Regions from separate parts of the Homo sapiens genome. Here region 1 is linked to region 2. The links come from fine-mapping of genetic effects on gene expression. A gene starts in region 2. The other region holds a variant in brackets. All regions are shown on one strand. Distances are between the middles of the regions.

The links.
Region 1: its variant is fine-mapped to the expression of TREX1 in whole blood (TOPMed, PIP 0.98).

The regions. Positions count from the first base shown.
Region 1 is chr3:48,604,923-48,620,054 of GRCh38, reverse strand. UQCRC1 (ubiquinol-cytochrome c reductase core protein 1) reads left to right here and starts at 10,409. Exons shown (of 13, transcript NM_003365.3): 1 at 10,409-10,503; 2 at 10,753-10,893; 3 at 14,199-14,285. The coding sequence starts at 10,435. SNORA94 (small nucleolar RNA, H/ACA box 94) reads left to right here and starts at 14,905; the gene lies at 14,905-15,132. RefSeq lists enhancers at 5,810-6,309, 10,019-10,128, 9,825-10,339, 10,419-10,518 and a silencer at 10,689-10,788. The variant A/G (reference allele first, on the strand shown) is at 8,031.
Region 2 is chr3:48,461,009-48,471,900 of GRCh38, reverse strand. TREX1 (three prime repair exonuclease 1) reads right to left here and starts at 5,671. Exons shown (of 2, transcript NM_033629.6): 1 at 5,592-5,671; 2 at 4,256-5,271. The coding sequence starts at 5,245. The coding sequence ends at 4,301. It overlaps ATRIP (ATR interacting protein), which reads right to left. Exons shown (of 13, transcript NM_130384.3): 9 at 8,020-8,156; 10 at 7,769-7,860; 11 at 7,239-7,319; 12 at 6,818-7,070; 13 at 4,256-6,414. The coding sequence ends at 6,347. SHISA5 (shisa family member 5) reads left to right here. Exons shown (of 6, transcript NM_016479.6): 4 at 2,058-2,173; 5 at 2,328-2,540; 6 at 2,715-4,025. The coding sequence ends at 2,794. ATRIP-TREX1 (ATRIP-TREX1 readthrough) reads right to left here. Exons shown (of 15, transcript NR_153405.1): 9 at 10,456-10,540; 10 at 8,020-8,156; 11 at 7,769-7,860; 12 at 7,239-7,319; 13 at 6,818-7,070; 14 at 5,592-6,414; 15 at 4,256-5,271. RefSeq lists enhancers at 3,074-3,840, 3,982-4,861, 5,076-5,275, 4,862-5,743, 6,356-6,445 and 1 more.

The DNA of each region.
Region 1 (15,132 bases), 150 kb before region 2:
AGTGCTGAGTGAGGGTACTGGGCCTCTCCAGTGCACAGGGTGAGCTGAGGAGGGACCTGGTCAGCTGAGAAGAGGGGTGGGGGCAGTGGTGAAGCTGGAACCAGATGCTGAGGATCTCTGATGGGGGACTGAGAGCCCCAAGCCCCCATCACTGTGGAGTCGCACACCCTTTGGCTTCACCCATCCTTGTCACCACCTCAGGGAGGTGACTTTAGTCCTGCCATCAAACAGCAGCTGGCTCTGGCTTCCTTCTTCCCAGGCCCTGCAAGGCCCTCCCTTGAGAGGCCACTGCTCTGTCTCCAATAACAGCCCCTCCCCAGATTCTTGGCTCCAGCAGCCCCAACCTGGGGTCAGGCAGGCCGCCCTAGCTGCCTTTGTTTCTATGGCAGTCTCAAACATGCTCTAGTGCCTCAGCCGCCCTTGCTCTAAGGACCCTGGAAAAGAAGGGACCCTCACTTTAATCCCTTTCTCTTTCTTTTTCCCCTTTTTAAAAATTGTTTCTTTTTGTTTTTTTGACGAACTCAAGCAATCCTCCTGCCTTGGCCTCCCAAGTAGCTGAGACTATAGGCATACATCACCATACCCAGCTAATTAAAAAATATATATATATTTGTAGAGATGGAGTCTATCTTGCCCAGGCTGGCTTCAACTGATCCTCTTGCCTCTGCCTCTCAAAGTGCTGGGATGACAGGTATGAGCCACAGTGCCTGTCCCAGGTTCCTGCTTTAGAAAAAGGCAACAACGTTATGAATTCAAAAATGGAAGTGAATTAAAATAATGAGAAAAGAAATGATGATACTTTTTTTTGAAAACTTTTTTTTTAAATTGACAAATACTACAATACTAAATCCAGAAAAATAACATAACTTGTGGCAACTTCCTGACATATTTCTAATACCTTGGTCCCCTACATGGTCTGGCTTCTTACTCTGAAGGCCTCTACAGAGGACAAGGATTTTGTGATTTTTGGGGGAGATATTTTCCATACAGAGAAAAGATACTTCAGTCTTCCTCCTAACATGGTTGAAATTTGTGTTTTAATTATTGGTAGTTTAGGAAAGTTAAACTTCCTAATCTGTTGTTGACGGTGCCATACAAATGTTCTGGATTGTTGTAAAATTTGAGAAACTGTCATCAGCCTTCTTTCATATAGGAACTATGAAATTTGGAAGAATTTTCCACAGACGAGGTTCTGGCTCCACGCATTTCAAACCTTGTTTTCCTTCCATGGCTCACAGTTTTCCCAGCACTGGGTGCCGTGGGGCATGTCCTTAAGGCAATAGGACTTTGCACTTCTGTCCTTACCCAGCAGGATTTTCCTACGAGCCACATTCCTAGTTTATTCTAGAACAAGACCAATAAACTAACTTTACACAAGGGTGGAGCAAACCACATAAATATGTCCCTCTTAACCTGGTGTAGAAAGTAAAAAAAAAAAAGTTCCTCTTCAAAGTTTCCCTTCTTGTTAAAGAATAAATTATAAGTGTTACAAATAATAGTTTCTTTTAAAGACTAACTTCCTTTAAGCCTCCTCACTTTGTGCTAATAACTCTTTGTTAAGCCCTATCTTATGTAGCTGTTAGATATAAAGAAATAAGTACATTCTGTGTCCTTGTACTTTAACCAAAATATTTGTGCTGGACATGCTCACAGGCACATTCCAGCTTGCAGCCTATGTGCCTTCCTTATTTCGAAATGTTATTACTTTTGGCTGGGTGCAGTGACTCACGCCTGTTATCCCAGCACTTTGGGAGGCTGAGGCGGGCAGATCATGAGGTCAGGAGATCAAGACCATCCTGGTTAACACAGTGAAACCCCGCCTCTACCAAAAATGCAAAAAAGATTAGCCAGGCATGGTGGTGGGTGCCTGTAGTCCCAGCTACTCCGGAAGCTGAGGCAGAAGAATGGCGTGAACCCATGGCAGAGCTTGCAGTGAGCCGAGATCATGCCATTGCACTCCAGCCTGGGCGACAGAGCAAGACTCCATCTCAAAAAAGAAAAAAAAGAAAAAAAGAAATGTTATTACTTTTCTAAGTCCTTCTAAGTCCTTTCGTAAGCAATTTCCTCTTTTCCTTTGTTCTCCCTTGCCTTTACCTATTTAAGAAAATTTTAAGTTATTAGCCGGTCAAGTTTAGCTTAGATTGTGCAGTCCGTCTCCAGCCAATGGAGGCAGGACACAGTAGCAAGGACAAGCTGCATAAAGAATAAAAATTGCTTCCCTCCTTTGTTCAAGTGTGCTCTCACCATTGTTTCATCTGCAAGGAGCACCCTTTCTGCAGAAAGTAAATTTGCCTTGCTGAGAAAACTTTTTGTCTCAATGCTAATTTTTCCTTGCGGTACTGAAGAACAGCATTCTGTTTCTGAATAAACATTTTACTTATAACACCCAGTGTGTCCCTGTGGTAGACTCAGAGATATGCCACACAAAGGCCAGCTGCTGCCAGCCACTCAGGGGACGGCCAGCAGACAGGTCCACTCTGGCTGTGGCAGAGCCCCTATAGCCAGACTTCTTCCTTGCCCAACCCTTTCCCTCCTTCCCTGAGGTGCTCATCTCAAGGGACTCTTGTAAATATCTTGTGCTCTGATCTTCCTCTTGGAGTTGGATTCCTAGAGAACCCAACCTGGGACCATCTTCAACCCACCTTCCCTTTGGCTGGACCCCGAAAATGCCACAGCCTCTCTGATGTCCTCCAAGTGAGGGGAAGTGGGCTGGAGTCAAAAGAGAGACAGGGTCTCACTATGTTGCCCTGGTCTCAAACTCCTGAACTCAAATGACTCTCCCACCTCAGCCTCCCAAAGTTCTGAGATCATAGGCATGAGCCACTGCACCTGGCTGAAAAAGAGATTGTGATGGGAAGTATCCCTCAGGAAGCCCAGGCATTGGAATTATTAATCAAAAACAATAAATCAACTGTCTTAGTATGTTCAATGAACTAAGGGAAGCCATGGACAAAGAACTAAAGGAAATTAGGAAAATTATGTCTGAACATAAAGAATACTAATAAAGAGGGCCGGGCGCGGTGGCTCATGCCTGTAATCCCAGCACTTTGGGAGGCCTAGGTGGGTGGATCACGAGGTCAGGAGATCAAGACCATCCTGGCTAACACAGTGAAACCCCATCTCTACTAAAAATACAAAAAATTAGCCGGGCACAGTGGTGGGCACCTGTAGTCCCAGCTACTCGGGAGGCTGAGGCAGGAGAATGGCATGAACTGGGGAGGCAGAGCTTGCAGCGAGCCAAGAGTGCCACTGCACTGTGGCCTGGGTGAAAGAGCAAGACTCTGTCTCAAAAAAAAAAAAAAAAAAAAAATTAATACAGAGAAAAATTTTAAAGGGACCAAACAAATTCTGAACCTGAAAGCAAATCATTTGTCAGTAATCTCATTAAATATAAATAGATTAAACTCTCCTATTAATAAATGAATTTTCAGATTGGTTTTTTAAAAAAGGTTAATCTATATGTTGTCTATCAGAGACTCACTTCAGATATAAGAACATAAAAACACCAGAAGTAAAAGGATGGAAGAAATATTTTATGGCCTGGCATGGTGGCTTACACCTGTAATCCCAGCACTTTGGGAGGCTGAGGCAGGTGGATTGCTTAAAGAGTTTGAGACCAGCCTGGGCAACAAGGCAAAACCCCATTTCTACAAAAAACACAAAAAATTAGCTGGGCATGGTGGTGTGCACCTTTAGTCCCAGCTACCCCGGAGGCTGAGGTGGGAGGATCACCTGATCTCAGGAAGGTCAAAGCTGCAGTGAGTCATGATCACACCACTGCACTCTAGCCTGGGGCAACAGAGTGAGACTCTGTTTCAAGAAAGAAAAAAAGAAAAAGAAAAAGAAAAAAAAATACTTCATGCAAATAGCAACCAGAAGAGAGTCAAGGTGGCTTTATTATTGTCAGGTATAGTAGCCTCTAAATCAAAAAGATTACAAGAGACAAAGAAGGACGTTATCTATTGATAAAAATTGCTTTTTTTTTTTGAGACGGAGTCTCACTTTGTCGCCTAGGCAGGAGTGCAGTGGCGCAATCTCGGCTCACTGCAACCTCTGCCTCCTGGGTTCATGCCATTCTCCAGCCTCGGCTTCCTGAGTAGCCGGGACTACAGGTGTCTGCCACCATACCCAGCTAATTTTTTTTGTACTTTTTTTTTTTTTTTTTTTTTTTTGAGACGGAGTCTCGCTCTGTCGCCCAGGCTGGAGTGCAGTGGCGGGATCTCGGCTCACTGCAAGCTCTGCCTCCCGGGTTCACGCCATTCTCCTGCCTCAGCCTCCCAAGTAGCTGGGACTACAGGCGCCCGCCACTACGCCCGGCTAATTTTTTGTATTTTTAGTAGAGACGGGGTTTCACCGTTTTAGCCGGGATGGTCTCGATCTCCTGACCTCGTGATCCGCCCGCCTCGGCCTCCCAAAGTGCTGGGATTACAGGCGTGAGCCACCGCGCCCGGCATTTTTTTTGTATTTTTAGTAGAGACGGGGTTTCACTGTGTTAGCCAGGATGGTCTCTGTCTCCTGACCTCGTGATCTTCCTGCCTTGGCCTCCCAAAGTGCTGGGATTACAGGCGTAAGCCACTGCGCCCAGCCTTTTTTTTTTTTTGAGACAGAGTTTCGCTCTTGTTGCCCAGGCTGGAGTGCAATGGCATGATCTTGGCTCACCACAGCCTCTGCCTCCCGGGTTCAAGCAATTCTCCTGCCTCAGCCTCCTGAGTAGCTGGGATTACAGGCATGCGCCACCATGCCCTACTAATTTTGTATTTTTAGTAGAGACGGGGTTTATCCATGTTGGTCAGGCTGGTCTTGAACTCCTGACCTGAGGTGATCCACCCACCTAATAAAAGTTTCAAAACAAGGCAATATGACAATTAGAAACATTTATGTGCCTAACGGAGCCCCAAAAATAATGAAACAAAAATTATCAGAATTGAAAGTAGTCAGCTCTACAATTATAGTTCATATTTCAACCCCCCACTTTCAATAATGAATAGAACAGGCAGGCGTGGTGGCTCACGCCTGTAATCCCAGGACTTTGGGAGGCTGAGGTGGGCGGATCACCTGAGGTCAGGAGTTCGAGACCAGCCTGGTCAAGATGGTGAAACCTTGTCTCTACTAAAAATACAAAAACTATCTGTGCATGGAGACAGGCCCCTGTAATCCCAGCTACTTGGGAGGCTGAGGCATGAGACTTGCTTGAACCAGGAGGTGGAGGTTGCAGTGAGCCTAGATCACACCACTGCACTCCATCCAACCTGAGCAACAAGAGCAAACTCCGTCTCAAAAAAAAAAAAAAAAAAAAAGCTGCGTGCAGTGGCTCATGCCTGTAATCCCAGCACTTTGTGAGACCAAGGCAGGAGAATCACTTGAGCCCAGGAGTTCGAGACCAAGCTGGGTAATGTGGCAAAATCCCATCTCTATTTAAAAAAATTAAAAGTAAATTTAAAAAATAAAAAGAAACATCTAGAAGAATAAATAGGTGAATGTATCAAACAGAGTAAGAAGGGTAAGTTGAGTGCCAGAGCCCTCCCTACAGAACACAGCCTGCATGGACCTGGTACAAGTTTGAGAATCTATGGGATGATAGAGGGAACAACAGAGATGGGTAGGGAAACAGGGCCTCATCAAGAAACGGTGTTACAAAATTTAGTTTGCCTTTTAGGGGGAGAGAGGATATTTTGACCTTACCTCACTCTATATACCAAGTAAATTCCAGAGAATCAATGAGTCACCAAACACTGTTGCAAAATTATTGCAATGATCACTGCTTGCACTTAACCTTTTAGTAATATTTCCTGTTTTGACCAACCCCTTGAAACGCATCGTTCCCAACCAGCATCAGACTTCCTAGTTGTCTCCTACTTCAATGGCCTTCCCTTCTTAGCCCAGGGTAGCAGTGGGTATAGGTAGGGAGGCTAGGTGACTGGGTTTAGGAATATTTCATTTGGGAGGCTGAGGTGGGAGGATCACTTGAGCCTAGGAGTTCAAGACCAGACTGGGGAATATAGTGAGACCCCATCTCTAGAAAAATGTTTTTAAAAATTAGCTGGGTGTGATGGTGCATGCCTATATAGTTCCAGCTACTCAGGAGGCTGGAGTGGGAAGATGGCTTGAGCTGGAAGGTTGAGGCTGCAGTGAGCCATGATCACACCACTGCATTCCAGCCTGAGTGACAGAAAGCCAGACCCTCTCAAAAAAAAAAAAGAAAGAGAGAGAAAGGAAGGGAGGAAGGAAGGAAGGAAAGGAAGGAGGGAGGGAAGGAAGGAAGGAAGGAAAGGAAGCAGGCAGGCCGGGTGCGGTGGCTCACACCTGTAATCCCAGCACTTTGGGAGGCCAAGGTGGGTGGATCACCTGAGGTTGGGAGTTTGAGACCAGCCTGACTAACATGGAGAAACCCCATCTCTACTAAAAATACAAAATTAGCTAGGCGTGATGGCACATGCCTGTAGTCCCAGCTACTCGGGAGACTGAGGCATGAGCATCGCTTGAACCCGGGAGGCAGAGGTTGCTGATAAGATTGCGCCATTGCACTCCAACCTGGGCAACAAGAGCGAAACTCGGTCTCAAAAATAAAAAAGGTCGGGCGTGGTAGCTCATGCCTGTAATCCCAGCACTTTGGCAGATCACGAGGTCAAGAGATCGAGACCATCCTGGCCAACATGGTGAAATCCCATCTCTACTAAAACTACAAAAATTAGCTGGGTGTGGTGGCACATGCCTTAGTCCCAGCTACTTGGGAGCCTGAGGCAGGAGAATCGCTTGAACCCAGGAGGCGGATGTTGCAGTGAGCCAAGATCATGCCACTGCACTCCAGCCTGGCAACAGAGCGAGACTCCATCTCAAAAAAAAAAAAAAAAGAGATCACGTCCAGGGGCGGTGGCTCACATCTGTAGTCCCAGCACTTTGGGAGGCCAAGGCAGGAGGCTCACTTGAGCCTGGAGTTTGAGACCAGCCTGGGCCACATAGTGAAATCCTGTCTCTACAAAAAATATAAAAGTTAGCTGGGTATGATGGTGTGCACCTGTGTTCCCAGCTACTCAGGAGCCTGAGGTAGAAGGATCACTTGAGCCAGGGCATGGTGGCGTGTGGCGTCCCAGCTACTTGGAAGGCTGAGGCAGGAGAATTGCTTGAATCCAGGAGGCTGAGGTTGCAGTGAGCCAAGATCACGCCACTGCACTTCAGCCTGGGTGACAGAATGAGACTCTGTCAAAAATTAGCGATGTTGGCATGTGCCTGCAGTTCCAGCTACTCGGGAGGCCGAGGCAGGAGAATTGCTTGAACCTGGGAGATGGAGGTTGCAGTGAGCAGAGATCCTGCCACTGCACTCCAGCCTGGGTGACAGAATGAGACTCTGTCTCAAAAAAGAAAGAAAAAAATAGAGATCATAAGACTGAGAGAATGAACCCTTTGTAGCAATAAGATACCAAAGTATAAACAAGACATTAAGGCCATGCCAGGCAAGAGTTAAGCCGTTCACCAAAGAATAAACTATGTTCTAACTGCTGCAAGGTTTTTCTTTTTCTCCAGCAGCTAAACAAGCACTGGCCTTGAGATAAGCAATATAGAAACAATTGCAGTTCATCCATCACCAGACACTGACCCCACAAGCCATAACTATAGCTTTGATTGCACAAGAGATGGATTTTGGTGACTTTTTCCTAATAAGAGACCACTGACCAGGGACTGGCTTCAGTTGGTTTATGGAACCTGTGCACTGAGTGCTTTTGTATCCTTCATTTTGACATATGGTGCTAATTGTATTTCTTTTCTTTTTTTTTTTTTTTTTTGAGATGGAGTCTCCCTCTGTAGCCCAGGCTGGAGTGCAGTGGTGCGATCTTGGCTCACTGCAACCTCCGCTTCCCGGTTTCAAGTGATTCTCCTTCCTCACCCTCCTGAGTAGCTGGGACTACAGGCATACGCCACCACGCCCAGCTAATTTTTGTATTTTTAGTAGAGACGGGGTTTTACTGTGTTGGCCAGGATGGTCTTGATCTTCTGACCTCGTGAGCCACCCACCTCGGCTTCCCAAAGTGCTG[A/G]GATTATAGGCGTGAGCCACCGCACCCGGCCTGTAATGTATTTCAATGTTAAGTCTCCACCCCAAAGTGAACATGGGTCATATACAACACACATGTTTATTCAGTATACTTGCATTAGGACCCCCTTCATGAGTATCTATAGCTCTTCCTGTAACCTGTTGAATATGGTATTTTTTGTTTTTGTTTTTTCTTTTTTGAGACAGAGTCTCGCTCTGTCACCCAGGCTGGAGTGCAGTGGCGCGATCTCGGCTCACTGCAACCTCCGCCTCCCAGGTTCAAGCGATTCTTCTGCCTCAGCTTCCCGAGTAGCTGGGATTATAGGCACATGCCATCATGCCTGGCAGATTTTTTGTATTTTTAGTAGAGACGGGGTTTCACCATGTTAGCCAGGATGGTCTCAATCTCCTGACCTTGTGATCCGCCCACCTCGGCCTCCCAAAGTTTGGGATTACAGGTGTGAGCCACCGTGCCCGGCCGAATATGTATGTTTAGCCAAGCCATTCGACATAAAGCTCCTGCCTCTTTTTAAGGGTCTGTCTCTGGTTTTGACCAGAAGCCCACCTCCCAGCCTGCAGGTTGTAACCCTTTATAAGAAATAAAGTCAGCCTGGCACGGTGGCTCATGACTGTAATCCCAGCACTTTGGGAGGCTGAGGTAGGAGGATCACTTGAGCTCAGGAGTTTAAGATCAGCCTGGGCAACATAATGAGACCCCCGTCTCCACAAAAAATAAAAAAAAATTAGCTGGGTGTGGTGTGAGAGCCTGTGGTCATGGCATCTGGCATGATTTTTATAAAGATAGTTTTATTTTAAGTATAAGAGTAGTTTTTGGGTAAGGTGTGGTGGCTCACCCCTGTAATCCTAGCACTTTGGGAGGCTGAGGTGGGTGGATTGCTTGAGGCCAGGAGTTTGATATCAGCCTGGCCAACATGGTAAAAAATGCAATGATCCTAGCCCTTGCCTCTTCCTGTACTTAAGATACTGTCTGACAGGATTAATGATTATGCTTCTGTGACCTATAAACAGATGTACTCTTGCACCCAAACCTTGATGAGATTTATGCTCTAATGTAACTTCTGAGCACATTTGATGTAATTTCTGAGCACATGGAGAGCCGCCACCACCAGTGTATAAACTGTCGGAAACACTGCTTTGGAGCAGTCTAGCAGAAACTCCCTGAAAGGCTCTCCCGGGTTGCAATTCTTGGTAAGACTTCTGAATAGAACTAACTTTAAATATTTAAAAGCTTGTTTTTTTTTTTCTTTAGTTGACATAACAAAGCATACCTTAGAAGTCTTTTTTTTTTTTTTTTTTTTTTTTTGAGACGGAGTTTCGCTCTTGTTGCCCAGGCTGGAAATGGCGCGATCTCGGCTCACCGCAACCTCCGCCTCCCGGGTTCAAGTGATTCTCCTGCCTCAGCCTCTGGAGTAGCTAGGATTACAGGCATGCGCCACCACGCCCGTCTACTTTTGTATTTTTAGTAGAGACGGGGTTTCTCCATGTCGGTCAGGCTGGTCTCAAATTCCCGACCTCAGGTGATCCGCCCACCTCGGCCTTCCAAAGTGCTGGGATTACAGGCATGAGCCACTGCACCCAGCCAGAATTCTTTTTCCTCTTACAGAAAAGGAAAGGTTTCACCATGTTGGCCAGGCTGGTCTTGGACTCCTCGCCTCAAGTGATCCACCTGCCTCGGCCTCCCAAAGTGTTGGGATTACAGGAGTGAGCCACCGCTCCCGGCCTGTACTTAGTTCTTTTAAAGAGAAAACTGGCAGGGCGCAAAACTGGCCAACATGGAGAAACCTTGTCTCTTCTAAAGAAACAAAAATTACCGGGCATAATCCCAGCTACTCGGGAGGCTGAGGCAGGAGAATCGCTTGAAGCCGGGAGGCGGAGGTTGCAGTGAGCCGAGATCGCGCCATTGCACTCCAGCCTGGGCGACAGAGCGAGACCCTGTCTCAGAAAATAAAAAATAAATAAAGAGAAAAAAATACTGACTTTCAGCACCAACTTGTGGTCCCAGGTAAGTTTCCACGCTGGTACTTTAGCCCTGGGCTCGAACCTGCGGACACGCTGTGGCTGCAACTCCCCGCCCGCCAGACCTCAGTACGCAGCGCGGCTGGTGAGAAACATAATGCACTCTGACTTCCACGCGTGGAATGGGGAGATGGACTGCACGGCGGGCGGACCTGCTCGGGCTGATGGACGGCAGGTGGACTGATGTGCGCAGGGACTGGCGGCAGCGCGGTCAGAGCCAGTCAGCCAAAGCCAGGCCAGCACAATAGACTGTCCCGGTTCCCGCCAGGAGGCGGCCGAGCACCAACTGTACGGTACTGCGCCTGCGCCGCGACCGCCAACGCGCCCAGTCTACGCTTGCGCGGCGCAACAGGGCCGACTGCAGCTGGAAGATGGCGGCGTCCGTGGTCTGTCGGGCCGCTACCGCCGGGGCACAAGTGCTATTGCGCGCCCGCCGCTCGGTGAGGTGGTGGCGAGAGCGCGGGGCTTCGGGACAGGGCTTCGGGAAGCGGACAGGTGTGGGCTGTTAGCAGTGGCAGGTCGAGGTGGGGAGGACGCGGGGTCAGGGCCGTGGGAAGGTCACGGCGGAGGGCGGGGAAAGGTATCTCGCCGCTTGCCTAGGGGCGGGGTTCGGGGGTCCTCCTGAGGACCTGGGAGGTGGGGAGCGATCCCCTGACCGAGTCCTCACTCGCGGCTGTTCCCTTCCACAGCCGGCCCTGCTGCGGACGCCAGCCTTGCGGAGTACGGCAACCTTCGCTCAGGCGCTCCAGTTCGTGCCGGAGACGCAGGTTAGCCTGCTGGACAACGGCCTGCGTGTGGCCTCCGAGCAGTCCTCTCAGCCCACTTGCACGGTGAGTTGGGGACGCTTTTGGGGAGAGGGCCTCCAGGTTGGGCCTGCCGTCTTTTCCCTGGTTGGGGTGTGACCTTGGGCTCGAGTCTTCCCGTTTGTGGTTTGGGTTCGGACCCAGGACCACTCACCCCGAGAATGGCCCCATTCCCTACCCTAGCCACGCCTTGGCTTCACGGGACAATCTTCACTATAAGCCAACATTATTTAGCATATAATGCCCGTTAAGTAGGCGGCCAAATTCTTTTCCAGCCTTTTGTTAAGGAGCCCATATAAGGGAAGTGATCATGTCTCCTCTTATAATGCGGAAAATGGGATTCAGACACCTTAGGTGACTTGCAGGGGTCCAGGTCTGTCAGCCTCACTGCCCAAGGTCATAATCTCCAGGCTAGACCAGAAATACATTTTAGGAAGCAAATGCATTTTAACAGTACAATGAAATGTGTGATTTTCCAAAAAATACAAATTCTCTAAATTGACACAAGAAATCTTGAGTCACAGATAGATATATGAATAGGTGAGAAGATTCCCAAGAAATAATTATCTCCTCCTCCTTTCAGCCCCCAGCCCCAGGGCCAGATGTTTTTATTGACACATCCTTTTAGTTTTCCAGAAACAATGTCCTGCGATTTAAATTGTTACTAAGCATAGGAAAAGGTGGCCTGCAACTTCCTTGTTATATGTCACTTGTTATAGTAAAGAATGCTATATTACATGAACTCTAAAATGTGCTAGATTGTAAGGAGCTGTCTGTGCTCCAGTGCCAGAGAAAGAATCTCAAGAATCTTGCCAATTTTAATCAAAGGATACTATAGATTGTAAAATGCCTCTTGCATTCCAAGATGTTAGATGTGAAATACATGTTCATCTAAGATTGTGTGATATATGGTATATGCATTGACATCTCTTAGGAAAGCAAATATCACATGTTCTCACTTATCAGTGGGAGCTAAAAAATACGTACATACAGATGTAGAGAGTGGAATGATGGACAGTGAAGACTTGGAAGGATGAAGGGGTGGATGATGAGAAACTACTTAATGGGTCCAGGCCTGGAGGCTCACACCTGTAATCTCAGCACTTTGGGAGACCAAGGCAGGCGGATCAGCTGAGGCCAGGAGTTCAAGACCAGCCTGGCAAACATAGTGAAGCCCCATCTCTACTAAAAATACAAAAATTAGCCATGCATGGCACACGCCTGTAATCCCAGCTCCTGGGGAGACTGAGGCAAGAGAATCGCTTGAACCCGGGAGGCAGAGATTGCAGTGAGCCGAGATGGAGCCACTGCACTCCAGCCTGGGTGAGAGAGCGAGAGTCCATCTCAAAAAAAAAAAAAGAAATTACTTAATGGGTACAAGGTTTGTTATTCTGGTGATGGATAATTCAGAATCCCTGATTTGACTACTTGTGCATTCTGTGCCTGTAATGACATCACACTTGTGGGCGGGGCACAGTGGCTTACACCAGTAATTCCAGGGCTTTGAGAGGCCAAAGCAGGAGGATCGATTGAGCCCAGGAATAAGAGGTTGCAGTGAGCCATGATTATGTCACTGTACTCTGGCCTGGGTGACAGAGCAAGGCCCTCTGTCTTAAAAAAAAAAAAAAAGAAAAAAATGGAGTTTCAGGTGTGGATAGAAATTTCTAAAAATTGTGCTTGTACCCCATAAATTTATACAATAAAAAAAAGTCTTGGCTGGGCGCAGTGGCTCATGCCTATAATCCCAGCACTTTGGGAGACCGAGGCAGGCGGATCACGAGGTCAAGAGATTGAGACCATCCTGGCCAACATGGTGAAACCCCGCCTCTACTAAAAATACAAAAATTAGGCTAGACGCGGTGGCTCACGCCTGTAATCCCAGCACTTTGGGAGGCCGAGGCGGGCGAATCACAAGGTCAGGAGATTGAGACCATCCTGGCTAACACGGTGAAACCCCGTCTCTACTAAAAATACAAAAAATTAGCCGGGCGTGGTGGCGGGCGCCTGTAGTTCCAGCTACTCGGGAGGCTGAGGCAGGAGAATGCCATGAACCTGGGAGGCAGAGCTTGCAGTGAGCCAAGATCGCACCACTGCACTCCAGCCTGGGTGACAGAGCGAGACTCCGTCTCAAAAAAAAAACACACACACACAAAAAAACAAAAATTAGCTGGGCGTGGTGGTGCACGCCTGTAGTTCCAGCTACTCGGGAGGCTGAGGCGGGAGAATCACTTGAACCCAGGAAGCAGAGGTTGAGTGAGCCGACATCACACCACTGCACTCGTCTCGTGACAGAGTGAGACTCCATGTCAAAAAAAAAAAAAAGTACTTAGGAAAGTAGATGTGAAAAACTTAAATCAGCTGTGAACAAATAGTAAATTAAAAGACTAGACCGTGTGACCAAGTGGGGTGAGTGGTACGTGTTTCTTTTACATTTTTTTTTTTTTTTTGAGATGGAGTCTCTCTGTCACCCAGGCTGGAGTGCAGTGGCACGATCTTGGCTCACTACATCCTCTGCCTCTTGGGTTCAAGCAATTCTGCCTCAGCCTCCCAAGTAGCTAGGACTACAGGCACGTGCCACCACACCTGGCTAATTTTTGTATTTTTAGTAGAGACAGGGTTTCACTATATTGGCCAGGCTGGTCTCGAACTGCTGACCTCGTAATCCACCTGCCTTGGCCTCCCAAAGTGCTGGGATTACAGGTATAAGCCACCGCGCCCAGCCTGTGGTGCGTGTTTCACAGCAACCAGGAGGCTGTCAAGAAAATTAATATTACCTTATTGGGTGCCAAGGCAACACTGTTTGGTGTTCAGAGCTGATTAAAAACAACAACAAAAAAGATATTATAGGAACAATATTTAGTGTGATAAAATATACAGTCTAAACCAATAGTCCCTTCCTTAATGATGAAAGGATAAAATCATTGCCAGAACAAAGGCAGCGTGTAATTTTTAGAAAGGAAAAAATAAGTTGTTATTTGCAAATGATATGTTGTATGCTTAGACAAAAACAAATAATTAACTGAAAATTGAGAGTGAATTTAAGGATTTGTATGCTGGTGAGACCAGGTAAATGTGCACAGTTAGAAGTGTCCCTGTGGGTCCTTGATAGCCAATCAGGAGAGCAATGATGTGGTGTGACGAGTCATTCGGCTGCCCCTGTTTTCCAAGCATGACTGTGTCCCCAAGCACAGGGGTCCTGCTGGGGCAGCTCTCCCTGACTCCAGGATTCATAAGTCCCTGCCTGGGGCTTGTACTGAGTCACTCAGGTGGGGTGTGAGTAGGGGGCTGGGGAGTGGTTTGTTTGTAACCTTTTCTGGTGGCTTCTTGACCAGGTGGGAGTGTGGATTGATGTTGGCAGCCGTTTTGAGACTGAGAAGAATAATGGGGCAGGCTACTTTTTGGAGCATCTGGCTTTCAAGGTGAGGCTCTTAAAGTCTGTCTCCTCTGGGCTTAGGGCTGCCTGTTGTCCCTCCTGAGGATGAAGGTCAGAAAAATTAGCCTGATTATGGGCCTCAGTTGCGGGGCTGATGTCTGGCTGGCTTTCCTAAAAGGAGCCACATGAGCTTAACCTCTCCTGAGTGGGCACGTATCTGATGAGCCCCTGCCTGAGGCCCTCAGAGCCAAGAGGACCCAAGGAACCATAGGAGCCCCACTTTTCACCAGAGAAGCCAGGCCTGTGGAACACACGTAGATATGCACATGCATTTTAACAAACCCACAGACATGGGCATGCATGCTTGCTTATGAAATGTTCTTCTCTGGTGGAATATCTAGGCATCCCTTGGTTGTAAAGACCCATGTTTTTTAAAGGAATGAAAAACATGGAGAAGGATTATGGGGTGGGCAGGGCCATGGAGCCATAGTAGGCAACCTAGCCAGCTGCAATGTCACAGGTATGTGTGCAGAATTAACGTGTGTGTGCACACCAAGAGATAGCACCACTGTTCTCCACACACAGGACTAGGATTGGGTCCCACAGAGGCCACTAGCATGTATTCACAAACATACAGTCATGGGAATGGCATGGGAGGAGTGGGTTCTATCACTTGAACACAGGTGTGGGCTTACCTGACCATGGCTGTCAATAAGGAGGGGGGAGGTGTACTGGTAATGATCCCCACAGCTTGTTGGTAAGCTGTTACAGGAGCTTTAGGCAACACTTGCTCTGGCCATGCCCTTCAGTCCTGGCCCTGGCTATCTCTGTTCTGTTGGCGCATGATGCCATGGTTTTGGTCACCTCAAGGCCTGCTTAGTGCTTGGTAAACA
Region 2 (10,892 bases):
TTTTTATTTATTTACTTTTTTGAGATGGAGTTTCGCTTTTGTTGCCTAGGCTGGAGTGCAATGGTGTGATCTTGGCTCACTGCAATCTCTGCCTCCTTGGGTTCAAGAGATTCTCCTGCCTTAGCCTCCCAAGTAGCTGGGATTGCAAGCACCCACCATCATGTCCGGCTAATTTTTTTTATACTTTCTCGAATTCCAGACCTCAGGTGATCCACCTGCCTCGGCCTCCCAAAGTACTGGGATTACAGGTGTGAGCCACCGCACCCAACCGTTTTTTATTTTTTAAAATCTTTTATCATCCAGTACAAAATGTAAGGCTGACTTTTTTTTTTTTTTTTTTTTTTTTGAGACAGAGTCTCACTCTGTCCCCCAGGCTGGAGTGCAGTGGTGCGATCTTGGCTCACTACAACCTCCACCTCCTGGGTTCAAGCGATTCTCCTGCCTCAGCCTCCTGAGTAGTTGGGACTACCGGCTAATTTTTAGTAGAGACGGGGTTTCACCATGTTGACCAAGCTGGTCTCAAACTGCTAACCTTGTGATCCGCCCATCTCGGCCTCCCAAAGTGCTGGGATTACAGGCATGAGCCACCGCACCCTGGCCACGAGACAGTTTTAATCTCAGCACTTTGAGAGGCCGAGGAGGGAAGATTGCTTGAGGCCAGGAGTTGGAAACCAGTTAGGTAACATAGTGAGACCCCTGTCTCTGCAAAAATAAATGTGGTAGTGCATGCCTGTGGTTCCAGCTACTGGGGAGGCTGAGGTGGGAGAATCACTTGAGCCTGGGAGGTGGAGGCTGCAGTGAACTGTGATCATATCACTGCACTCCAGCCTGGGCAACAGAGTGAGACCCTGTCTCAAAAAATAAATTAAAAAAGAAAAAGAATGAAGCTTGGCCTCTGCAAACACGGCAGGGTGGCTAGTAAGGGGCTCTGTCTGCATTTGGAAGTCAGGTTTTTTTTTTTTTCTTTCATTTTTGAGACAGAGTTTTGCTCCTGTCCCCAGGCTGGAGTGCAATGGCGTGATCTTGGCTGAATGCAACCTCTGCCTCTCGGGTTCAAGCGATTCTCCTGCCTCAGCCTCCCAAGTAGCTGGGATTACAGGCACCCGCCACCGTGCCCGACTAATTTTTGTATTTTTAGTAGAGACAGGGTTTCACCATGTTGGCCAGGCTGGTCTCGAACACCTCACCTCAGGTGATCCGCCCTCCTCGGCCTCCCAAAGTGCTGAGATTGCAGGCATGAGCCACTGCCCCCTCCTAGAAGTCAATTTTGGTGAGCTTCCCAGCCCAGGGCCTGCTTTCTCAAAGGGCAGGCCCTCTGGCCTCCTGCCTCCAGGCCTCTGTGTCCTCCCCTTGGCTCTTGGCCCTCTCACCTGTGGAAGTGGCCATGCAGGTCAGAGGTGGGGGACCCAGGGGTGTGTGTGACCCCTGGCACGGTGCTTGGCATACAGCAAGCTTGCAGGCAGAGGCAACTGTCCTTATCACTCAGGGGCCAGCCTCCCTGCCCTGGGGCTGTTGTGGAGTGCAGGGGAACAATGGGGGCCTCCTGTTCTGGCCACACTGGCCTCTGCCCTCCTGGGGCTTCTCTCAGTCTTCACCCTGTGCTTTGTGAGCCATGTTATCTTCACTGTCTGCCTCCTACACTGGACTGTGGGCTCCCAGAGGCCAGGGCTGGCTGTCTTGCCCACTGTTAAGTTTTTTGACTCAAATCACAGTGCCTGGCTTGTGGCATGTGCCCTATACCCATCTGCTGATCAGTTGGTTGTGAGGTGGACAAGATAGATGTATGTGTGTGGCATGGGACTTGAAGAGCTTCCTCCCATGCCTCTGAGGGTGGGACAAGCGGGGGAGACCCAGGGAGAGACAGTTACAGGGACTCACATATACCCCAGTTTACACAAGAGGAAACAGATTGAAACAGGTGCAGGCCACCCGACAAGGAAGTAGCTATAACTGTATTGCCCAGACCCCTTCTGGCAAGAGGGGCATGCCTTGGGAAGGTGTGGATGCTGGTCTGGGGAGGGGCGAGGTGCCCCGGGTCACGTCTAGCTCTTTGGCAGGTTCGGAGCGACCTTGGCCGTTGGCCTGACCATCTTTGTGCTGTCTGTCGTCACTATCATCATCTGCTTCACCTGCTCCTGCTGCTGCCTTTACAAGACGTGCCGCCGACCACGTCGTAAGCGTGCCCACCCTGCCCCACTGTGACCCCCTGGGGTGGTAAGGGAAGCTGACCAGGCCCTGCTTTGGCTAAGCTGGAGGGATGGGTGGCAAGCCTGGCTCTCAAGACCTGGGGAGATGGAGGAGGGTCCTGACTGGAATTCTCTTTGCAGCGGTTGTCACCACCACCACATCCACCACTGTGGTGCATGCCCCTTATCCTCAGCCTCCAAGTGTGCCGCCCAGCTACCCTGGACCAAGCTACCAGGGCTACCACACCATGCCGCCTCAGCCAGGGATGCCAGCAGCACCCTACCCAATGCAGTACCCACCACCTTACCCAGCCCAGCCCATGGGCCCACCGGCCTACCACGAGACCCTGGCTGGTGAGTGCCCCTGCCAACTCTAGCCCTGCCCGACTTCCCGAGTCTCTGCCAGCATCCCTCGGGCACCCATCCCAAACTACATCACTCAACAGGCCTCTGCCCCTTTCTGCTTGCCTGCCACTCACACGGCAGCCCACCATGCTCACAGCCAACCAGGGTCCTCTCTGCTTTCAGGAGGAGCAGCCGCGCCCTACCCCGCCAGCCAGCCTCCTTACAACCCGGCCTACATGGATGCCCCGAAGGCGGCCCTCTGAGCATTCCCTGGCCTCTCTGGCTGCCACTTGGTTATGTTGTGTGTGTGCGTGAGTGGTGTGCAGGCGCGGTTCCTTACGCCCCATGTGTGCTGTGTGTGTCCAGGCACGGTTCCTTACGCCCCATGTGTGCTGTGTGTGTCCTGCCTGTATATGTGGCTTCCTCTGATGCTGACAAGGTGGGGAACAATCCTTGCCAGAGTGGGCTGGGACCAGACTTTGTTCTCTTCCTCACCTGAAATTATGCTTCCTAAAATCTCAAGCCAAACTCAAAGAATGGGGTGGTGGGGGGCACCCTGTGAGGTGGCCCCTGAGAGGTGGGGGCCTCTCCAGGGCACATCTGGAGTTCTTCTCCAGCTTACCCTAGGGTGACCAAGTAGGGCCTGTCACACCAGGGTGGCGCAGCTTTCTGTGTGATGCAGATGTGTCCTGGTTTCGGCAGCGTAGCCAGCTGCTGCTTGAGGCCATGGCTCGTCCCCGGAGTTGGGGGTACCCGTTGCAGAGCCAGGGACATGATGCAGGCGAAGCTTGGGATCTGGCCAAGTTGGACTTTGATCCTTTGGGCAGATGTCCCATTGCTCCCTGGAGCCTGTCATGCCTGTTGGGGATCAGGCAGCCTCCTGATGCCAGAACACCTCAGGCAGAGCCCTACTCAGCTGTACCTGTCTGCCTGGACTGTCCCCTGTCCCCGCATCTCCCCTGGGACCAGCTGGAGGGCCACATGCACACACAGCCTAGCTGCCCCCAGGGAGCTCTGCTGCCCTTGCTGGCCCTGCCCTTCCCACAGGTGAGCAGGGCTCCTGTCCACCAGCACACTCAGTTCTCTTCCCTGCAGTGTTTTCATTTTATTTTAGCCAAACATTTTGCCTGTTTTCTGTTTCAAACATGATAGTTGATATGAGACTGAAACCCCTGGGTTGTGGAGGGAAATTGGCTCAGAGATGGACAACCTGGCAACTGTGAGTCCCTGCTTCCCGACACCAGCCTCATGGAATATGCAACAACTCCTGTACCCCAGTCCACGGTGTTCTGGCAGCAGGGACACCTGGGCCAATGGGCCATCTGGACCAAAGGTGGGGTGTGGGGCCCTGGATGGCAGCTCTGGCCCAGACATGAATACCTCGTGTTCCTCCTCCCTCTATTACTGTTTCACCAGAGCTGTCTTAGCTCAAATCTGTTGTGTTTCTGAGTCTAGGGTCTGTACACTTGTTTATAATAAATGCAATCGTTTGGAGCTGCTGCCCCCTTTCTTCCTGGCCTCGGCTGCTGGAATTGGAATCAGGCTGTACTCTTTCCATCCATTTGGGCTTCTCTGTGTTTTCCCTACTTTTACTGGGCTCAGATAGTTGACCATCCTGCTAGGGAAAGTGAGGGACAAACACTGTGCCCTCCTCCCCAGGTCCCTGGGTGTGGGCAGAGGTCTGTGCTGCCAAGAAGGGTAGGAGCCAATTGACCACTCAGTGCTATGGGGCAGCGGGGGTCTTTATTCGTCAGATTTTCCTTCTTGGCCTACTCCCCAGGTGTGGCCAGGGATAGTCCATACAGTGTGGCTACTGCCAAGGTCAGGATGGCCAGCAGACCCAGTGGGGCCAGCAGCCCCTCCCTGGATAGGGCTCCAGGGTCCTTCACTGGAGGAAGATCCTTGGTACCCCTGCTCTCTCCAAGGCTGGGACTAGTGTTCCTGGTTGTGGCCAGGTGTGCAGTGGTTGTGACAGCAGATGGTCTTGGCTTGGTCCTAGCAGAGGCTGTGACCCCATACATGGGCCTGATGGTGCCGAAAGGCCTGGCGTGAGCATCCACCCACCGCAGCAGGGCCTGTGGTCTCCACTGACAGATGCTGAGCAGGGCCAGGACATCACCCTCAGCCGTGTGCGAGTCTGGAGGGGACTGCCCATACAGGCGAGTGTAGATGCTGCCTAGGCTATAGCTCTTCCTTGGGCCGTGTTCTGAGGGGCTGCTTGCTCGCTCCAGGGCCTTCAGCGCAGTGATGCTATCCACACAGAAGGCACCATCCAGAGCACTGGTGAGGCCCAGCATAGCCAGCTCTGCTTGGAGCAGGGGGAAGTCGTAGCGGTCACCATTGTGTGCCACCAGGCACCAGGGCTGTGGCTGGCGCCGCAGGAAGGCTAGGAGCAGGTTGGCCAGGTTGTCATCAAAACATTGACGCCCATGCGCTGCCAGCACAGCTGTGCTCAGACCTGTGATCTCGCTGGCTGCAGGGCTGCAGGCCTTCCCCGGAGCCACACACAGGGAGAGCTTGTCTACCACACGCGGTGGTGGAGGAACTGTGGGAGGTGGCCCCTGAGAGGTGGGGGGGCTCTCCAGGGCACATCTGTGGACAGCCAGCAGGCACAGCTCCGTGACCTTGGGCTGGGAGAAGGGCAAGCCAGTGGCCTCCATGTCGAAAAAGATGAGGGTCTGCATGGGCCCCGGGGGCAGGGCCTGCGAGCCCATGGTTGGGTACGTACCTGCTGCTGAGCCTGGAGAGGAGCATGGGGTGGGTGTGTGAGTGCCCAGTGTTAAGATCCGAAGGGGAGGGAGTGGGGTAGGGGGTGGGCAGAAGCACATCTCAGGCCTTCCCTGCACAATCCTGCCCTGTCTGCGAGCTCCAGGGCCCATTTTCAGGCAGGAAGTTGGAGAGGGTGAGGTGGTTTCCTTAGTGGGACCAGCACATTCGACTGTCTGAGAGGGTCTCCCTCTTCACATGACTCGGCCCCTCCCCTAGTGCCCCCTTAGTCTGGGGTGGGGGAACCCATGGCCCTCCTGCCCTGCGCCATCCCATTGTGGGGGCCACACTCACCGTAGCAGGCAGGCAGGCAGGCAGTAGTGACTCGGCTGCACACTCTCCCGCGGCTCTCGCTGGCAGCAGTGGCGGGAAGTGAAACTTGGCGTGGGCCCGCCTACAGGCCCACGTGAGCCAGGCCCGCCCTGCTCGTCAGCCTGCCTGGTCTGTCCCTCTCACCACCATCCGTTCCCCCCCACACCCACTCCCCTGCTCCCGGGGGACCCCAGAGGCCTTCCAAGATCCACAGCTGTGGCCTGCTGGTGGCACAATGCACCGGGGCCATCATACCAGTGACAGGCAGCTGGAAGGACCAGGGCAGTGGTGCCAGACCAGCTCCCGGTCTTACACACTGCTGGGAGCCCCTGCTGCGGCCCTTTCATGCCCACCTGTGGGTCCCAGTTTCCCAGGCTTTCCTGGTTTAGGCCTGGGCCAAGAGCCACCTCCTTCCCTGCCACACAATGGTTTCTTCCCATGGCCCCAGCCCAAAGCAATGACTCAGGACAATTCCACAGGCAGGGCAGGGCTCCTTCCTCAAGGCAGATCAGTTACCATGGGGACGGGCTCAGCAACAGCCAGGGACAGGAAGAAGGATCCCAGCCACTCAGGGTCCGGGTCCTGCTCCACCCCTCCCACTCCGCCAAACAGATCAGACTCAGGAAACAAGGCCAGCCAGTTCTCTGGGCAGTTCCTGCTGGTCACTGCTTTAATCAGTTGATGTGGTAAGGAAAGGAGTGGTGCTGGTGCCACCATGTGGCTGGACACTCAGGGCCTCAGCCACACTCCACCTCGGGGTCTTCCACATCGGTTTCCGCGGCACAGAGGTCATCCAGGGCTGCCTCTGAGACAAAAAGGAGAGGTTCCTGGTGAGGGCCCAAAGGTGCCAGGGCCTAGGGCAGGTCCCACCTCTCCTCCCCCAACGTCCGCAGGAACTAACCAGTCCCTTCCACACCCAGGCCCTGCTCCCTCAGCTACTGCAAACAAAGTGATACAAAGGCAATTCAGACACGGCTATTTCTGGAAAAACCGTGGCTCTGCCAGGCACACTCAACAGATAGATGCAAAAGGCATCCCAATATGCTTGGAGAAGAACTGAGGCAGGAAGATAAAAGAAAATGGCCCCAGTGCTGGAACAGGCTGCAGTGGGCGGGGGCCTGCTGAGGGGACACCCAGGAATCTGACTTGTTGGGGAACCTCTGGAAGAAGCCATGGGGGCTGGGCAGGATGGCCTCTGGCAGGCTTACCTTCACAGTCCGTCACATCAGGAAGCCCTCGGATGAGCATGCTGACCCCCGGCATCACCTGGTCAAACTGATGCAGGACCTCCACGCAGTGCATCATGAAGAGCTTGTCCTTCTGCGATAGGCCGTGCAGCAGCAGCACCGTGTCCCGCAGACAGCGCACTGTCCGCCTCTGCTGGTCGGTCCTTGGGGGTCCCCCTGCCCTCCGCACTGTCAGCCACTGTCTGTGCAACATCACCGTGAGCGCTCTGACCACCTGAGAGAGGGGGGGTGCAGACTGAGGCCTGGTGCCACCATGGCCTGCACCCTAACAATCCGCTCAGCCTAGCCACCTCACGTGAGGGGGTTTGCAGTGGGGCCTACAGTCCTTGCACGGGGCCCCCTTACCACCAGAGCTGCCAGCTGTTGGCCCCTACCCACTCACCTCCACATTACACTGGCAGTTGGAGCCAGTGACTGGGGGCAAGGGGCTCTGCACACCAAGCTTAGCCAGGAGCCACACCACCTAGAACAAGAACAGATTGGTTCCATCCTGGGCAGAAGGAGACCAGTCCCTGCGAGGGTTTTCTTAAGCTTCTATAAGAGTTCACTTGCTTCAGCAACTGTTTGTCTGCACAAATGGGGTCCAAGAAGTGGTGTGGGACCTTCCCAGGGAAGACCCAGGACAAGCACTCATGTGTCACCAGCAACCCACCTGCCTCCAGCCCCCTATTCTGCCCCCACGTCCCAAAGCCAAGACAGGATCAGTCATCAGGCAACTCTGCCAAGTCCTGTCTGCATTGCATCTGTGTGGTGCACAGCCCCCAAACTGAGTTTACCTCTTTAGTTGCTTTATCAACTCTTGTTACTAAAATGAATTAAAGCTCCGTTTCTCCTCAGCGGAAAGAAAGGAGATTCTGTTGGTTCTTAGGATGGGGTGGGGACAGTGTCCAGAAGGGGCTCTGGAGTTTTTACCTCTTGTTCCAGCTGGAGCCATTGTGTCTCCAAGGCCACTCTGTCAGGCCGTGATGTGATGTACATGTACAGCAGCAGCAGGAGGCAGCCTTCTGAAAAGGACAGCGCACCTCTCACTCAGGGTGCCCTTTCTCATAAAGAGCGTGGGCTACATACTGCAGAAGCCCTCTGAGGCCCTTGACCCTGTTCCCACCCCAACCCTTCCCTTGATCTGCAGGAGCAGTCTAGACGCCCGCCCCACCCTGCTTTACCTGAGTGGGAACAGAGCTGAGGTGCCAGCTGGTCGTGGTCCGCCAGCAGGGAGAGGAGCTCAACAGCCAGCAGCACGCTAGGCAGGGGTGTCTCTGGGCTGAGGCACTTTGGCAGCACTTGGAACACACACTGGAACCTAAAAGACAGGGACCCAGAGAGACGTGACACTCCCCAACCCCAGCTCCATAACCTACCTTCACACTCCACTAGAGGTAACAGAAAATTGAGCAAGTCAGTATGAACAGGTGAGTTGGTTCAGCCAGACTTGGGTTTCAGTGCTGGCCTGACCCCTACTTACTTGCTATGAAACTTGTTTCATGTGAACAAGTGGGCACTTCCACTGCAAGACTGCTGCAGCTGAGAGGACAGGCCCTTATCTGGTGTAGCATCGCCCAGGAAGTGGGATGACCTCCTGGATCTGGGATGCCTGGCTTCCACATGCTCCCAAACAGGGATGCAGGTCCTAACTTAGGTGGGAGAGAAATGTTCTGTGCCCACAGAAGGACTGACCAGGCCTCCAGAGGTGACAAACATGGCCTTGGCTATGGCTGGATCTTATGAGACCTCTCACAGGGCAAGGAAAGCCATTTTCTCTACTTGCCAGAAAACACATCTGCTGCCAGTGGGAGAATGTGCCTACTGTGGGGTGTGCAGGAGGGAGGGGTTCTGGGCATACTGCCCCAGGTCTCAGGGGCAAAAGGAAAGCTATTACCCCAATAAACCAAGCCCCAAGGCAACTGCTGCTGTTTGCTCAACCCACATAGCCTGGGGGAGCACGATGGACTGGCCTGGTGGGTGGGGAGGAGGGCAATTCTGAAACACTCTATGGGGTCTGGCCAGGTGTGTACCCCTTCAGACATCTGCAGTTTCTAAGCACAGAAGGTCAAGATATCCCTCAGTGTGTCCTTAGGAAGCAAGGTCTCACTATGTGGGGTGAACTCACTTTAGGGCAAATCCTGCACAGCAGACAAAAAGTTCAATGCTTTTTAGTTGCCAGGGTGTGCAGCCCTTTGTGGGAAGCTGGAATTTTAACATGGTTATTACCTGGTTTCATTATTGGGCTGTAAGATGTCCAATATCTGCCACTTGCAGAAGGTACTGCAAGGAAAATCCACTTTTATGTACACCACAGTGGTTTCCAAGTTATTTTTTGATAGCGTTAAGAACTTTTTTTTTTTGAAACTGAGTCTCGCTCTGTCACCCAGGCTGGAGTGCAGTGGCGCAAACTCAGCTCACTGCAACCTCCGCCTCCAGGGTTCAAGCGATTCTCCTGCCTCAGCCTCCCGAGTAGCTGGGACTACAGGTGCCTGCCACCACGCCCAGCTACTTTTTTGTATTTTTAGTAGAGACGGGGTTTCACCATGTTAGCCAGGATGGTCTCGATCTCCTGACCTCGTGATCCACCCACCTCGGCTTCCTAAAGTGCTGGGATTACAGGCGTGAGCCACCATGCCCAGCCCCTAAGAACCTCTTTAAATGAAATTTTATGAAGAGCCCCAGTACATGAAATAGATAAATGCCCAGCTGTGGCTGTGTTTTGAATGTCCCTGTGGACAAGCTCAACAGGAGTGGAATAATGGTGTGTCTACCACCAGTAAAAACATGGTTTCTGGGATTCTTTGAGATAGGGTCTCACTCTGTCACCTAGGCTGGAGTGCAGTGGCATGGTCATAGCTCACTGCCACCATGCCTGGCTAATTAAAAAAAAAAAAATTGTAGAGCTGGGAGTCTTGCTTTGTTGCCCACGCTGGTCTCAAACTCCTGGGCTCAAGTGATCCTCCCACCTTGGCCTCCCAAAGTGCTGAGATTACAGGCAGGAGCCACTGTGCCCAGCCTGGGATTCATTCATTTAACAATTATTAAACAAATAACCAAGGCTGGGCCCGGTGGCTCACGCCTGTAATCCTTGCACTTTGGCAGGCCAAGGCAGGTGGATCACCTGAGGTCCGGCATTTGAGACAAGCCTGGCCAACATGGTGAAACCCTGTCTCTACTAAAAATATAAAAAATTAGCCAGGTGTGGTGGCAGGTGCCTGTAATCTCAGCGTCTCAGGAGGCTGAGGCAGGAGAACTGCTTGAACCTGGGAAGTGGAGGTTGCAGTGAGCCGAGATCGCACCACTGCACTCCAGCTTGGACAACAAGAGCAAAACTTCGTCTCAAAACAAAAACAAAAACAAACAAATAAACAACAACAAAAAAAAACAGCCACTATGAGCTGGGCCCCTGCTGGGCACTTGAGTCCTGAGTCTGCCTGATCCCACTGCCCACACTACACTGCAGTGCTGTGTCCAGCTGAGTACCACCTTTAGCATGGGCCAGACCAACCAAAAATATTCAGATGGAAACAGATCTAGGAAACAGCAGTGCTGAGCTCAGAGATGAGATGATTTAAGATATATTCAGCCAGTGGAATCATTCCAACATAGAAACTGACCCTTTGGTAGAGTGCTGAGGGAGACTGGATTACTGGATGAGGGGGTGGGCTGGTTGTGTTCACAGTTCTCCCCAATCTTGCGGCTCTGGAATCCCAAGGGAGGAATTTATGATCACAGTGTTCATTCGCTAGGTTCACTATAATATACTACCCACAAACCTTAAGAAGAACAGGCCACCCCAGATGCATGCTAAAGATGGGCACAATGACAGGCAGAGACTCCCAGCAAGGTCAGCCCGTGGGCTGCAGACCCTCTCCACATCCTCTGCTTCCTTAGGGAAACCACTAAACTTCAACGTGCTTGTGATGTGTGGTCTTCACCTTACCCACATCTCAGGTTCAGAGGCCCCTTGTCTTAACCCTTGTCCTGGGGCAGGGCCCTCCTCCACAGAGGTTAGCAGCCTCCTTTAATCATGTGTGCCTTTTGCTTACCTGTT